Homo sapiens: one gene and its partners. The protein of the gene in region 3 purifies or fractionates together with the protein of the main gene of each other region. This does not show direct contact. Each region holds a gene or a part of one and is shown on either strand. Other genes may lie near its edges.

What was found. Proteins that work in one complex are often made in the same cells at the same time.
Region 1: the proteins of BPTF (region 3) and TFAP4 fractionate together in Homo sapiens (co-fractionation; one large-scale study listed by BioGRID). This does not show direct contact.
Region 2: the proteins of BPTF (region 3) and LIN9 purify together in Homo sapiens (affinity purification with mass spectrometry, with the first as the bait; one large-scale study listed by BioGRID). This does not show direct contact.
Region 4: the proteins of BPTF (region 3) and FIP1L1 fractionate together in Homo sapiens (co-fractionation; one large-scale study listed by BioGRID). This does not show direct contact.

Annotation. Positions count from the first base shown.
Region 1 is NC_000016.10:4,259,419-4,263,112, reverse strand, and holds part of TFAP4 (transcription factor AP-4), read left to right. Parts: intron 1-411; coding exon 412-577; intron 578-690; coding exon 691-789; intron 790-1,163; coding exon 1,164-1,334; intron 1,335-2,517; coding exon 2,518-2,658; intron 2,659-2,867; coding exon 2,868-3,023; intron 3,024-3,694.
Region 2 is NC_000001.11:226,284,729-226,288,753, reverse strand, and holds part of LIN9 (protein lin-9 homolog), read left to right. Parts: intron 1-956; coding exon 957-1,090; intron 1,091-2,295; coding exon 2,296-2,421; intron 2,422-4,025. UniProt on the Homo sapiens protein: Acts as a tumor suppressor. Inhibits DNA synthesis. Its ability to inhibit oncogenic transformation is mediated through its association with RB1. Plays a role in the expression of genes required for the G1/S transition.
Region 3 is NC_000017.11:67,978,478-67,982,502, reverse strand, and holds part of BPTF (nucleosome-remodeling factor subunit BPTF), read right to left. Parts: intron 1,068-4,025; coding exon of another isoform or gene 1,061-1,067; exon of another isoform or gene 252-1,060; coding exon 215-251; 3' UTR 1-214. UniProt on the Homo sapiens protein: Regulatory subunit of the ATP-dependent NURF-1 and NURF-5 ISWI chromatin remodeling complexes, which form ordered nucleosome arrays on chromatin and facilitate access to DNA during DNA-templated processes such as DNA replication, transcription, and repair.
Region 4 is NC_000004.12:53,422,552-53,426,576, forward strand, and holds part of FIP1L1 (pre-mRNA 3'-end-processing factor FIP1), read left to right. Parts: intron 1-3,320; coding exon 3,321-3,414; intron 3,415-4,025.

The DNA.
Region 1 (3,694 bases), on a different chromosome or scaffold from region 3:
GCAGCCTCCAACTCCTGGGCTCAAGCGATCCTCCCACTTCAGCCTCCTGAGTAGCTGGGACTACAGGCATGCACCACCACACCTGGCTAATTTTATTTTTTTGTAGAGACAGGGTCTCACTACGTTGCCTAGGCTGATCTCAAACTCTTAGGCTCAATGATCCTTGGCCTTGACCTCCCAAAGAACTGGGATTACTGTGCCTGGCCCGGGGTGGGTTCTGAGCGGACTATCTTACCCGCAGCCAGCTGATTCAGTCCGCCCCGGTGTCCCAGAGAGCACCCCTCCATCACTCTCTGGGGGTGGCCTGGCATCTTTTGCAGCAGGGGAGGGATGCAGTTTCCACTGGGGCCCTCTGGAGATGAATGATGAAGAGGGCGCCTTGGCCGAGCCTGTCCCTGTCCTCTCTGGCAGCCTTGCCAACATTCCACTAACCCCCGAGACTCAGCGGGACCAGGAGCGGCGGATTCGGCGGGAGATCGCCAACAGCAACGAGCGGAGACGCATGCAGAGCATCAACGCGGGATTCCAGTCCCTCAAGACCCTCATCCCCCACACAGACGGAGAGAAGCTCAGCAAGGTGGGTGAGAGCAGGGAGGGCTTCCTGGAGGAGCCGGCAGGTTCCCGCTGGGAGAGGAAAGTGAGCTCTGGTAAACACTGCCAGCCTGACTCTCGGCTTTTCCACGCCCTCAGGCAGCCATTCTCCAGCAGACAGCCGAGTACATCTTCTCCCTGGAGCAGGAGAAGACCAGGCTCTTGCAGCAGAACACACAGCTCAAGCGCTTCATCCAGGTGCGCCCTGTCCTTCATGGCTCCCTCTCCCTGGCATGGGCATGCCTTGGACCCAGCCATGGGCCTGGGACTCAGGTGTGGCTGCAGGCCCCTTCTTGCCCACTGACAAGTACTTCCAGGCACTTTTTTTCCTGCCCCGGCCTCAGTTTCCCCATCGGTCAAGTGCGGTGGAGTGGGCTCTGGAAGGAGCCAGGTGACTGTTATGTAAAGCAGCCCATTCTCCTGGCATTTGGCTGGTTTGTTGGACTTGCAGAAGGGGCTCCCTAATGAAGATTCACCTGTGTTGGGCAGCTTTGGGGGGCTGCGATGGAACCCCAATCTCCGTGGTGGTACCGAGGTGTCAGGCACACTGACCGACTCCTTGGGGTCCCCAGGAGCTGAGCGGCTCGTCCCCCAAGCGACGGCGGGCAGAGGACAAGGACGAAGGCATAGGCTCCCCGGACATCTGGGAGGACGAGAAGGCGGAGGACCTGCGGCGGGAGATGATTGAGCTGCGGCAGCAGCTGGACAAGGAGCGCTCGGTGCGCATGATGCTGGAGGAGCAGGTGAGGCAGCGCCCTCTGCTGGGCACGGCGCGCGGTGCAGAGGGCGTGGAGCCTGGGGTCGCGCCTCTTGCTCTGCGGCCCTCGGTGGAGCCCTATTTACAGGAGCACCTACTGCGGTGCCAGGCCTAGGAGTGGGGAGCAAGCCAGACACGTCTCTGCCCTTGGGGGCCACCGTCTGCGTTGGGGTGGGGGAGATTAGCCAAAGGATCTCAAAAATGTAACCATGCTGTGGGAGGCCGAGGCGGGTGGATCACCTGAGGTCAGCAGATCGATACCATCCTGGCTAACACGGTGAAACCCCGTCTCTACTAAAAATACAAAAAAAAAAAAAATTAGCCGGGCGTGGTGGTGGGTGCCTGTAGTCCCCGCTGTTTGGGAGGCTGAGGCAGGAGAATGGCGTGAACCTGGGAGGCAGAGCTTGCAGTGAGCCGAGATCGTGCCACTGCACTCCAGTCTGGGAGACAGAGCGAGACTCCATCTCAAAAAAAAAAAAATGTAACCGTGATGGGCTGGGTATGGTGGCTCACACCTATAATCCCAGCACTTTGCGGGGCTGAGGTGGGAGGATCGCTTGAGCCCAGGAGTTTGAGATCAGCCTGGGAAGCATAGTGAGACTCTGTCTCTACCAAAAAAGATACAAAAATTAGCCAGGTGTGGTGGGGTGTGCCTGTAGTCCCGGTTACTCAGGAGGCTGAGCTGGGAGGATTGCTTGAGCCCAGGAGGTGGAGGCTGCAGTGAGCCATGATTGTGCCACTACACTGCAGCCTGAGTGACAGAAGGAGACCATGGCTCAAAAAAACCAAAAAACAAAAACAAAAAACCATATTGAAGGCCAGGCTGGAGCTGTGGCATCAGGAGGGGTTTTTCAAGGGACGCCCCACGGCATCTCCATGGAAGTGGGAAGTTGAGTCTCATAGTTAACCAAAGGACAGAGAAAGGTGTTCCCGGCAGAGGGAATAGCATAGGCAAAGACTCGGGCAGGAGGGAGCATGGTCCAGTGGAGGCCGAGGTGGGAGGCGAGAGGAGCCGGGGGCTGAAGGGCTCTGGAAAGGCTTCTGGCCTCTGTTGAGAGGGGCCCGCCCTGTGCTAGGGTTTTCAGCAGGAGTGAATGAGCTGCTGTGAGACTGACAGGGCAGGGTGTGCTCCCGGCCTTGGCCCTGAGCCCAGGTTGTCCTGCCTCCAGGTGCGCTCGCTGGAGGCCCACATGTACCCGGAAAAGCTCAAGGTGATTGCGCAGCAGGTGCAGCTGCAGCAGCAGCAGGAACAGGTGAGGCTGCTGCACCAGGAGAAGCTGGAGCGGGAACAGCAGCAGCTGCGGACCCAGGTGAGCAGGAGGCGCCCGGGAGTGGGCTCTGGGGACCGGGAAGGGGACAGGTGATCTTGAATGGCGGAAGCCTCTCCCTAGGCCACGTCCTCTCTGCTTCTTAATATAAAGGGGCAGAGGCAGTTATACATTGGCCAGCTCTGCATGAAAGGGAGGTGGATGGGCCAAGAGAAGCCTTGAGAGAAAGGCTGAGGGCCTCTGTCTTGCAGCTTCTGCCCCCTCCGGCCCCCACCCACCACCCCACGGTGATCGTGCCAGCACCGCCTCCTCCTCCCTCCCACCACATCAATGTCGTCACCATGGGCCCCTCCTCGGTCATCAACTCTGTTTCCACATCCCGGCAAAATCTGGACACCATCGTGCAGGTACCTGAGCTTGAGAAAGGGGCAGCTTGTGGGGGTCATACTCCGGGAACAGGCTCTTTAGGGGAGACTGGAAAAGAGGGGCAGAAGCGGAGGAAGATGGTGCTTGTGTGGGAAGGGGTGGAGGGCTGGAAGCCTTGGGGGGCCCCGTCCCTGGATCTGCAAGTGGAGAATGTGAGGGCCAGAGATCGGGGCAGGGCCTACCACGCCAGTAGGAGGAGTTGGCCAGGAAGACTGTCCCTTCCCTCAATATGGGGTTTCCGGAGAGGGTCCTTTGCTCCCAGAGCCCCCTGGTTACAGAGTTCCTGCATCCAGCTCTTGGGTTGGTCCGGAACATTGTCTCAGCTCCATCTCCTAGGACCTGGATGGAGATACAGGTGGCAGGGCTGGTGATAGTTGGGCCTCCTACAGAGGAGGAAGCTTTGTGGGTCAAGCCTGAAGTTACAGTTGCATTCACCCTTGAACAGGGCCCCTTGAGGAGCCCAAGATCAGAAATCAGTAAATAATAAATAAATAACCAAAAAAGCCAAAACAGGAAAAAAAATCCATCAATCTCCTCGAATTTTAATTGCTCATAAACTTTGCAAATTGTGTAATACAATTAATAACAAACGCCTTTAATAAGTTAATAGGCAAGCTTTAAAATACATAAACATATGGCCGGGTGTGGTGGC
Region 2 (4,025 bases), on a different chromosome or scaffold from region 3:
GACTTAATTTTTTTCCATATCAGTCTTGCATGTTTCGTAAGTATATTCCTACATATTTAATTTTTTTGTTTATGTCCATTTTTGTGCTGTTATAAACAGGATATAAACTCTTATGGCCTGTCCAGTTATTATTTACATATAGTGATTTTTTTGAATCATGGTTTTTGTATATCAACTTTGTATTTACCCATTTCATTAAATTTTCTTACTGTTTTTAATTGTTACAGTTGATTTTCTTGAGTTTTCACCTACAAGGAAATGGTAGTTTTATCTTCTTTCTAAATTTTATTCTTCTTACCTGATTGGCCAATTCCTTCAAAACAGTGTTATGAAATAGTGGTGGTAGTTGAAATCTTTGTCATACTAGGTTAGTGGTGGTAGTTGAAATATTTGTCGTTCTCATCGTCTTTTAATATTACGATACTGGTTTTTGGGTTGGAGTGGGGAGAAATGTTTTATTAGGTTAAAAAAGTATCCATCTAAGCTGGGCGCTGTGGCTCACACCAGTAATCCCAGCACTTTGGGAGGCTGAGGCAGGCAGATTACCTGAGGTCAGGAGTTTGAGACCAGCCTGGCCAACATGGTGAAACCCCATCTCTACTAAAAATACAAAAATTAGCTGGGTGTGGTGGCGTGCGCCTGTAGTCCCAGCTACTTGGGAGGTTGAGACAAGAGAGTAGCTTGAACCCGGGAGGCAGAGGTTGCAGTGAGCCGAGATTGTGCCACTGCATTCCAGCCTGGGCAACAGAGCAAGACTGTCAAAAAAAAAAAAGGCAATAATCAAAAATAATCGGAGTGTTTAAAACAGCAACAAAATTCCATGTTGAATATCAGTGAATCAGTGAACCTTTTTAAGTACTTAAACATAATTTACCTTTTGCAAATTTATTCAGGGTTATAAATGTTCATTTTTACTTAATGGAGCCATAAATTAATCTCTTTTTTTTATTGTATAGAAATTTACAGCAACAATGTCAACACCAGATAAGAAAGCTTCACAGAAGATTGGTTTTCGATTACGTAATCTGCTCAAGCTTCCTAAAGCACATAAATGGTGTATATACGAGTGGTTCTATTCAAATATAGATAAGTATGTATCATGGCTTATATTATGAATATTACTTGAATCAGAAATTTAAGTTTTTCAAGTGTTTTAAGCTACAACATTTTCTATAGGTCTACTTTGATCTTATTTTTCTCTAAATTCATTTTTCTGTTCCACATTCCAGTTGGATCTATTCTATTTGTCATAGTTTTCTTCCCTGTTATCCTTTTTGGGGAAGAAAACTGTACATTTTTGTGAAGAATTGATTACGGTATAATTTCTGTGTTAGAATTCTTAAAGACTATGGAGTAGAGATACCTTAAAACACCATTATTTGCAGTGAATGAGATTCATTTTATAATTGAGATGTTAAGTGCTGGTATAATCATAGAGAAACCATTACTAATGGTAAAAATGGCTTAAGATTTTTAAGAGGGTAGTCTTTCTAGTTTGGATGTGGTACTTAAGCACGCTAGGTATACACATATGCTTAAGTATGACGTAGTATGAGATTTGGCTGAAATACAATTATTCAACAATGGAATTTACTGAGGAAAAGTTCTTATTTATAATCCTTCCTCATATGCCAGTCATTGCTGCTTGCTCTGCTGGATATTTATATTTTCTTCCCTTCTCTGTTTTCTATACCAATTGCCTACTCTGGAGCTTGTGAATCTCATGAATGTTCATATTTGAGCCCAAGGCATTTATGTATCATTGCCAACACTGGTTCCTGGTTTCCCAGACTCATGAATAGAATTGTTTTATTTTTGTCCATAGGCTTAAGAGAGTTTTCAGGGTGTCTCAGTGTAATCTGAGTTCTTCTGGGATCCCCCAAGCTAATCTAACCCTCTGGAGTCCTCCAGTGTCCCAAGACTGGTTTAATTCCAAAGAGGACTCCTTGGTGATGGTATTCCTTTGGGACAAAGATACTTTGTAGCTAACTTGGTTTATCTTCACCTGATACAAGGCCAGGGCCACGATAGCCTCCCAAAGGATATACCTGTATAAGAGATTGAACAAAAATCAGTGTCTCTTGGAATCACAACACAAATAATATTTCCTGAGCAACTTTTACACGACATTAGATGTTTCACAAATGCCAAGGATTTAGTTTTAGCACTTTGAATTTGTGCCAGTTTATATATATATATGGGGTAGAAGTGAAAGTTTAGCATTTTGTGATTTTATGTGTTTTAAGAAAGTAACACATTGTATGTAACCATTAAAATACTATATCTGTTTTACAGACCACTTTTTGAAGGTGATAATGACTTCTGTGTATGTCTAAAGGAATCTTTTCCTAATTTGAAAACAAGAAAGTTAACAAGAGTAGAATGGGGAAAAATTCGGCGGCTTATGGGAAAACCACGGAGGTAAAAATAATGTTTTTGTTTTTGTTTAAAATAAAATCAAGCCAGTAGCAGTGCATGTACTTATAATCCCAGTTACTTGGAAGGCTAAGATGGGGTATTTGCTTAAGGCCAGGGGTTCAGGGCTGTAGTATGCTGTGATTACACCTGTGAATAGTCACTGCACTCTAGCCTGGGCAACACAGTGAGACCATTCCTCTAAAAAAGAATTAAAAAATAAAATCAATAAATAATAGTTGTTAGTATCATTAGTACATTGATTTTTTTAATCTTTAAAATGACTAGTACCAAAACATAACTTTTCAGAATAATTGATTATATGTTAAATATATCCTGTTAACCAACTTTAATGTAGGTGCTGTTTATACGTATGCATCTTATAATTAAATGCACAATTTCATTTTTGTTAGGATCACAGGTTTTCAACGTAATTTTTTAGTTTTACATTATCTATGTCCCTCTGTGTTCCAAAAAATATTTAAGAATGTCCTAAAAAGTATTTAAGGATGCTGTAAAGTTCTGTGTACATTTTTGTTATCTTTTGTGAAATCCTTTATAATCTCAGGAGCCTTCCCAGAAGTGCCTATTTTATTTTATATAAAAGTAGAAAACAAATTAATCTATCTAATATGTTACTTCCTGAGAATTGCTCTTCATGTGAAATGATTTTTTCTTTTCCAGTGTTATCCTGGTAACACATTGGAAAACCTTATATTACTTTTGAGTGAAAATTGGAAATATGTTAGAAGAATAATTAGATCATTAGTTCTCACATTATGTCTATCTGCCTGGTAAAAAGTATGTGCAAGACTTTTTCATTTTAAATGGTGGGAAAGTTCAAGGAAGGTCTGTAAATATAAAGTGATTTGGACAAATAGAAATGGAATTTAGATTTAATGATTTCTTTAGATGGTGATGAAATACAGAGAGAACTTTTAATTAAACTGTCATCAAGATGACCTTGATGATGATGTTTTTAATATTTCTTATAATAACAAAATTAAAATTTGATATGTTATTTAGTGTGTTTCATACTCATAATTTATGGCCTTTGGTAATTACAGTAGCCATTTGGTGACTTTTTGCTATCATTTTGCGTGTTTGAGCAAATTGAGTTACACTGTTTCTAATTATTGTCCATCAGAGTGGGATATTGGTCACTATTTACTGTTTTGTCATAGTTCTGTAGTTTGAGTGTCATAATATTTCTCGTTAATTGATCTTCTATTCTCTTACCATAACATTATTTAATCTTATAGTCCTTTAATTCATCAAGGTTAATTAATAGTTGAAGTCTTTTTTCAATAAAATGTGTAGTTTTTCTTTCTTTGAGGAAGTCCAGGTATAATACAAATTATTGATACAATAAACCTTAAAATATCTTAATTTTAAAAATCAATTGGTGAAACTCCATCCACTTGGAAGATAAAAAGGAAGAAACAAAGGAAGATAAACTACCAGGAAAGAACCTAAGAGGAAATATGCAAGATACATATGAAGAAACATTAAGACATACAGGATCTTGGAAAAGAAGACTCAACATCCTAAATTAGTCTATAAGTTAAAATCAGTCCCAATAAAAATATTAACAGGCCTTTTTTGTTGTT
Region 3 (4,025 bases):
CTTGACAAGATAATGGTGTCGTTGACTTTGCTTTTTTCTTGTCCGTTGGACAAAATTGGCCAAGAATATAATTGGACTGTTATGACCAATAAAAACGAAGTTTAGGTCAAGTCTTGTCAGGATAGCCTGACTAAAAACATCTGGCTCCTTAATTTAAAATAGTTCAGACAACCAGATTCTTGCTGTGTTTTATGTTAGGTTAACACGCTGAACTTTAAGAAGCTGTAGACTGCAGTTTGTTGTTATGAGACCTACAGAATATAGAAAAAAGGGAACAATTAAGCACCCTTCATTTTTGAAAACAATGATGCTTTATGCGGATGCCAAGGTCAGTCAGTCTGGGAGAAGCAGCCATGTTCTTTCATTCACCCTTGGCAAGCGAATAGAAAAGAACGATTAAGAAAATTTTAACCTATAATATTAAAACTTTTCACTGTACACTAAACATAATAGCTCACTGGAAAAAGCCAATATTTAAATATATATATATATATATATATATATATATATATATATATTTGTCTAATAAAGATTACAACATTTTCAGCCAACTGGACAAATAGAGGCATTTACAGAAGCATTACCATTGTGGTGAAAGGTGTGTGTGTGTGTGTGTGTGTGTGTGTGTGTGTGTGTTTATTTACATTGATGAGGGGAATATAAAGGGAAAAATTACGCTAAAACAAAAGAAAAAGCAATCTTAAAATCACATTTTTCTATTAAAGTCCAGAAAGTCTCCCTTCTAGTTTCACAGTTTTATTCACAACTTTCATTAGTAAACCAAATTACTGTACAGTTACCAGGACTAAGTCAAAGGACTTTATATTGAAATAGCAGATAAATACAGTATTCCAAGAGTTTACAATTTTTAAATACATTGTTCAACATGGCTGCTAGAGTAAATTTTTTACCACGATACATCTTTAACATTAAAAAATTATATTAACTAATCTGACTTTTTGGGGGGCAATTTTGAATTAGGTAATCACGAGGTACAATAAAACAAAGAGTGACCCCAACATCCAGTTCTGATTCCAGTTAAAAATTCAGACTAAAGATATCACAATCTGTAAGAAAAGAAAGAATATGGATGGTATAAATGATGAATTATAACAAAGTGCAGTAATGAAAACAATGTGCAAACAATGCTGGAGATCATAAAATGGGAAAATATGGCAAAGGAAATTCTGAAAATCCATAAATAAATCAATTTTCAATAACTGGCTAGTTATGTTTCATTCTGCCTTAAATCTGGAAAACAATAGAAATTCCCTAAAAAGGCAACAGCAAGTTGCCCTTATACAACTCTTTACATTGTAATTTTGTTTTGTTTTGTTTTGTTTTGAAACAAGGTCTCACTCTGTAGCACAGTCTGGAGTGCAGTGGCGCAATCACAGCTCACTGCAGCCTCAACCTCCAGGGCTCAGGTGATCCTCCTACCTCAGCCTCCTGGGTAGCTGGGACTACAGGCACATGCCACCATGCCCGGCTAATTTTTTGTATTTTCTGTAGGGATGGGGTTTCCCCATGTTGCCCAGGCTGGTCTCAAACTCCTGGGCTCAAGCGAACTGCCTGCTTTGGCTTCTCAAAGTGTTGGTATCACAGGCATGCACCATTGCACACAGCCTAATTTGTTTATTTAAGCAGAATTGAGCAAACTTCTCAATTCAGCTCCCATGTGCTTTAATGAAAATTATGTCAACTTGAGTATATTTAAAAACTACATAAAATAACCACGTGGCAAGAAGACATCCTAAGTGGCCCCTTCACTGTGCAGGCCCAGCCTAGGCCTCCATCTCTCCTTTACCAATTCCCTTTGTCTTGCCTACAGTCCCCAGGACCTCCAGGCAATTTCCTCTCCTTCATCAGCAGTTGCCAGCAGTCATCCTGTGGGCTCTGCCAGCAAGCTGGCAGCAGGGTAGGATTCACACTCCTTGGCTTCTACCTCACAGTTACCACCAAAGGCCTTCCCAATTTAAAAAAGCAATTTTAGAAACTGAACCAGAGGAATAACCACGATGTACAAATGAAAAAGCATAGAGGGGCTTATAATGAGAAGTTGTGCTCCTCTGTCCTACCTTAACTCCATCTGAAATCCAGGCTCCCTATGATCAATCCCTTTGACTTTTCAGTTCTCTGGGTAGATGTATTTTTCTTTTTGAGATGGAGCCTCAGTGTTGCCCAGGCTGGAGTGCAGTGGCAGGATCTCAGCTCACTGCAACCTCCTCCTCCCAGGTTCAAATGATTCTCCTGCCTCAGCCTCCCCAGTAGCTGGGATTACAGGTGCCTGCCCCCAGGCCCAGCTAATTTTTGTATTTTTAGTAGAGACGAGGTTTTACCATGTTGGCCAGGCTGGTCTTGAACCCCTGACCTCAAGTGATTCACCCACCTCAGCCTCCCACAGTGTTAGGATTACAGGCATAAGCCACCACACCCGGCCTGGGTAGGTTTTTTTTTGTTTGTTTGTTTTCAGACGGAGTCTCACTCTTGTTGCCCAGGCTAGAGTGTAGTGGTGCGATCTGCAACCTCCGCCTCCAAGGTTCAAGTGATTCTCCTGTCTCAGCCTCCCAAGTAGCTGAGACTTATAAGCGTGCACCACCACACCTAGCTAATTTTTTTATTTTAGTGTAGACGGGGTTTCACGATGTTGGCCAGGCTGGTCTTGAACTCCTGACCTTAGGTGATCCGCCCGCCTCGGCCTTCCAAAGGGCTGGGATTACAGGCATGAGCCACTGCGCCCGGCCAGGGTAATTTCTTATACTGCTATTTCTTGTTTTATCAACTTTTGTTTAAGCCCTGCTATGGCAAGGAGAACCAAGCTCACTTAACCATTTCCCAACCTCCCTTTTTTGAGTCCAAGTTTTATTTCCCTATAATTTAAAAATTATATCATTCTATGCTTTGTCTATAGGGTGATTCTAAAAGTCGAAAACCAATGTCATTATTTTTATTATCTTTGAGACGGAGTTTTGCTCTTGTGGCCCAGGCTGGAGTGCAGTGGCGCGGTCTTGGTGCACTGCAACCTCCGTCTCCCAGGTTCAAGTGATTCTGTCTCAGCCTCCTGAGTAGCTGGGATTACAGGCATGTGCAACCACACCTGGCTAATTTTTGTACTTTTAGTAGAGACAGGGTTTCATCATGTTGGCCAGGCTGGTCTCGACTCCTGATCTCAGATGATCCACGTGCCTTGGCCTTCCAAAGTGTTGGTATTACAGATGTAAACCACCGTGCCCGGCCCAATGTCATTATTTACGTTACTACGAAAATGTAAATATTTTTCTCTGTAGCACCTAGTCCTTTGCTAACAGGGCCTTTTTTTTTTTTTTTTTTTTTGAGACAGGGTCTTGTTGTGTCTTCCAGGCTGGAGTGCAGTGGCATGAAGATGGCTCACTGCAGCGTCTACCTCATGGGCTCAATCCTCCCACCTCAGCCTCTGAAGCAGCTGGGACCACAGGTGTACATCACCATGCCTGGCTAATTTTTGTGTTTTGTAAAGATGGGGTTTCCTCATGTTGCCCAGGCTGGTCTAGAATTCCTGGGCTCAAGCATCCTCTTGCCTCAGCCTCTCAATGTGTTGGGATTACAGGCATGAGCCACCGTGCCCAGCTAACAGGGTACACTTACACAACTTTCTGTTTTTAGTGGCGTTTCTAATTGCCTTTCATTTTTATCCCTGACGTTCTTTGGCTTAATCATAGCCTTATGTTTTTCTGTCTTAAACAAATTATCTAATGTATGAGTCATTTTCTTGCTCTACTGAGCCTCTGGGGAGTGCTCCATTCTCCTGCTAGGATTTGGTCTGCTGACATTTTACAGCCTGCTGTATAAATGTCATCTTGGGTCAGAGTAATTCTCATTGCTTTCCTGAACCACTTGTTTTCTGAACTCAAATAAACAAAAATTTCTGGCCGGGCACGGTGGCTCACATCTGTAATCCCAGCACTTTGGGAGGCTGAGGCAGGCGGATCACGAGGTCTGCAGTTTGAGACCGGCTTGGTCAACATGGTGAAACCCCGTCTCTACTA
Region 4 (4,025 bases), on a different chromosome or scaffold from region 3:
CGCATAGTAGGTGCTCCATAAATACTAGCTGTCATTACCAGGAAAACAATCTTAGAGCAAATGCTTTGTTTTAATCTTAATGCACATTAAAGACATTTGTTGTTAATGATGTCCTTTGCTTTGGCTTCCAAGAAAAAGCAGCTGAGATATATATATATGTATATATATATATTTTTTTTTTGAGACAGGCTCTTGTTTTGTTGCCCAGTCTGGAGTGCAGTGGCACAATCACAGTTTACTGCATCCTTCATCTCCTGGACTCAAGCAATCCTCTCACCTAAGCCCTCTGAATAGCTGGGACCACAAGCATGTGCTACTATGCCTAGCTGATATTTTAAATTATTTGTAGACACAAAGTCTCGCCATGTTGCCCAGGCTGGTCTTGAATTCCTGGGCTTAAGTAATCCTCCCGCCTCAGGCTCCCAAAGTGTTGGCATTACATGCGTGAGCCTGACCTTCAGAGATCAATTTATGGCCTTTTGTCTATCTTCTATTAGCCCTGATTTGTCATCTTAAACTTTCTGTTGCATCTCTGCAGGGAGCCCTCAGATTCTTTCTGGGATATCAGAATCATCAAAATATGATAATTTAATTCCATTGTAACTTCAGAGATATTTTTATATTCATTTACTGTGCCAGGAGGGGAGGTAGAGGCTCTTGGGAACATTTACTGCCTGTTTAAACTGTACATTAACTCAGACACCCAGAGTGGTTAGTTTCTTAGCTTTTTACTAGATGGTTGAGTCCAATATGGAGAAGAGGATTTTGATAATAGCATTAGCTGTCTACCTTACTGAACAAGTTTGTTGGCCTAATCAAACCTACGCTTTGGGGAACTCTTAAGTTACAGTAGATTTCCTCATAGGGAAACTCTATTAAATCTTCTTAAGCAATGAAAGAAAAAGCTGTCCATTAAGAACTTTCGTGGAATAATATGGTTCAATATTTTTTTCCATAATGTGGCATCAGAATAATATTAGATTTTTAAATTATTTGTCAGTGTTAGATATTATGTGCTTTTTGTTGCTGTGGTACATACTGTGTGTCTTATCATAAAACATTTTGGAACAAAACGGTAAGCTTAATTTATATGATTAAAGTAAATCAGTTTATGTGGTTAAAAAATACGGGCACAAGGAGATGTTTTGAAAATGTGGAGAATTGTAATTTTCTGAACTCCCTTTAGGGATATATACTTGTTAAGGCTGATTTCTCAGTTATATGTTTTTAGAAACATAGTATTTGCCATTTTGAATCTTTAGTGATTAAAAACAATCAATTTAAAGTTGAAAAAAACTAATTAGACTTCTGACCATATTTAAGGTACATTTTAAGAGGTGAATACTTCCATGTGTCCCAGACTTTTTGAAAACTAGAGATCCTCAGAAATAAATGGTAAAAGACAGGCTATAGAAAATTTTCCCCTCAACAGGAAAGTTATATCTAGATCTAATTTTTACCACTTTTAACAATTTGGAGAATTTGCTATCTGACTTGCAAGTCCAAACAAATTTGGTAGAATTTGTTCTTGATGGGAATAAATTTAAAAATGCAAAGGAGAGAGTCCAGTGATTGGCAAGAGAAAATAGTAGAAAAGGAAATAGAGCGAAAATAAAAATTTTGACAATGGAGGGCAGCAATTAACAGAGAGGAAATTACAGCCTCAGAATGCACACCTGTATTTAGTAGGATGTTGGAATATGAAATGTTTGTATATCAGAGGGCTGATGGCATGTGCTTTGATAATGCAGTCATGGTAGGCATAGCTTTGCAATTTAAATTATAGGGAAGAAATGGAAGCAATATTTGTTTTATTGTAGAGATATTTGGATTTTTGTAACATGTGAATATTAAGATCTTTCCCCAGCTGTATTGGAGGATATGTTAATCCTCCAATGAAATCATTCATGATCTTTGGGATCATGAGGAAATCTAGGAAGTCAGTGACTCAGGCATAAAATTAGAAAGGCTTGAACATTTTTAAATTGTACTAAAGTTATAGAGAAGGGAAGTCTTAAGTGGGCAAGGGATGGTAAGTGGGAACTGACTATGTACTTGAAAACATTTCAGATGTCATGATGTGCTTTTTATAGGGCTGTCTTTGTTAGCACAAAATAATTTGTGGAGTGTTTCAAGGTCTACTTGAGATAAACTCTTACTAACTCATGATTTCCAGAAAAGCCTTAAATTCCTCAAAGGTCTTGCTGGAAGGAAACCTAGCTCAAGGGGAGGGGAGGTCTATAGTCTTTGGGATTAGAAAGACTCAGGTTTGAAAGTTAGTTTTGCTATTTAATTCATGCTTGTGTCAGTGATTTCACTTTGGACCATGGCTTGTCTCTAACAAGTATACAGTAATTTTTCAGTTTTTGTGAAGTTTAGATATAATGGGTTTGGCATCCAACCTATGGTAGCTGCTGTTATTTGTCATTTTAGGAGCCTAATCTAGTGACTGTGGAAGGATCTATGGTATTTTAATTGTTTTGCTTCTATAAAGTTTTAAAGGCAGTATTGTTCAGAACTGAAATATAGATGAAGAGAAATTCATCTAATTTGCATCCACTTTTCATTGCCTATTTCTCCAAGTGACTTCTATATCATCTTAGGCATGCATACTTTTGTAAAGTCCTTTATCTGCATAATAGCTTTTAACATTATTTTATTTAAAATACAACTTACTAGGTTTTTCTCTTAAATTTATAGCATTGTTTTATGATAGACTATTTTTCCATATCCTTATAAACTTTAAAAAGATTGTAGAGGTGAGGCGGGTATTTAAATATTTGAATTTTTCTATCTAAATGCAAGTTATCAGAAATGGCAAACTGGTTCCTTTTTTATGTTTTTTAACACTTGGAATATATCACAAGGAAAATATCTTGTGTATGTTAAAATGAGCATTATTTTCAGGCCTTTTTGGGGAATATTTAAAGTTTCTGTAATAGAGCTGTAGTATGTGTTACAATTGTAGTGGTCCCAAAATTTCCATTTGTCTAGCATTTGCTGTCTTATTTAATTTCACAAAGATAAATTTATTTGGAGACTACTAAAACTAGTAAGTGTAGAAGAGCTCTACAGAGACTTAAAACTTAACATTATGATCATTGTTGGGTATGTTGGTTCTAGCTTGTTTATTAATAAAAATTTTTATGACAATGCAAAGTAGTGAGCTTAAACTCAGGGATATTTTTCAATGTGTATTGTGATCTGGTTTTATTTTAAAATTTATTGCAAACACATTTTGTTTTTATTTCTCACTGCTTTTATTATTTTTTAAGCATCTAATTAGGTGAAACTGAATTGATTCAATTTTTATGTTACAGGAGATTACCTGGGGCAATTGATGTTATCGGTCAGACTATAACTATCAGCCGAGTAGAAGGCAGGCGACGGGCAAATGAGAACAGCAACATACAGGTTTAGTATTTTAAAATAAATAATTTTCTTTAACTGAAGGATGATATCAACATTATAATTTAATTTATTCAATAGATAGTCATAGTGCTATGCTGTGTTTTAGGTGATACAAAGAGATTTAAAATGTGAAGCCAGTCATTTATTATAAAGGCATTTCCAGTTAGAATTTATAATCTCTGAATCTTTTTTTAATAGGGTTTTCTTTCTTTTCCTTGGTAGAAACATAGTACAGGTTGAGTATCTCTTATCTGAAATGCTTGGGACCAGAAGTGTATCAGATTTTGAAATGTTTGGATTTTGAAATGTTCATACGTATGTAATCTTAGAGATGAGACCCAAGTCTAAACATGAAATTTATGTTTCATAAATAAGTTATTTAATTTGTTATAATGATTTGTTAATTTATGATAATCTTTTTTCCTTTGGCAACCCTGAGTAAACTGTGTAGTGGGCCTGAGTTTTGATTGTGATCCGTCACATGTGAGGTTGGGTGTGGAATTTTCCACTTGTGATAAAATGTTGATGCTCAAAATGTTTCGGATTTTAGAGCATTTCAGATTTCAGATTTTTGGATTAGGAATACTCAACTTGTATATAGGTTTACTGAATGA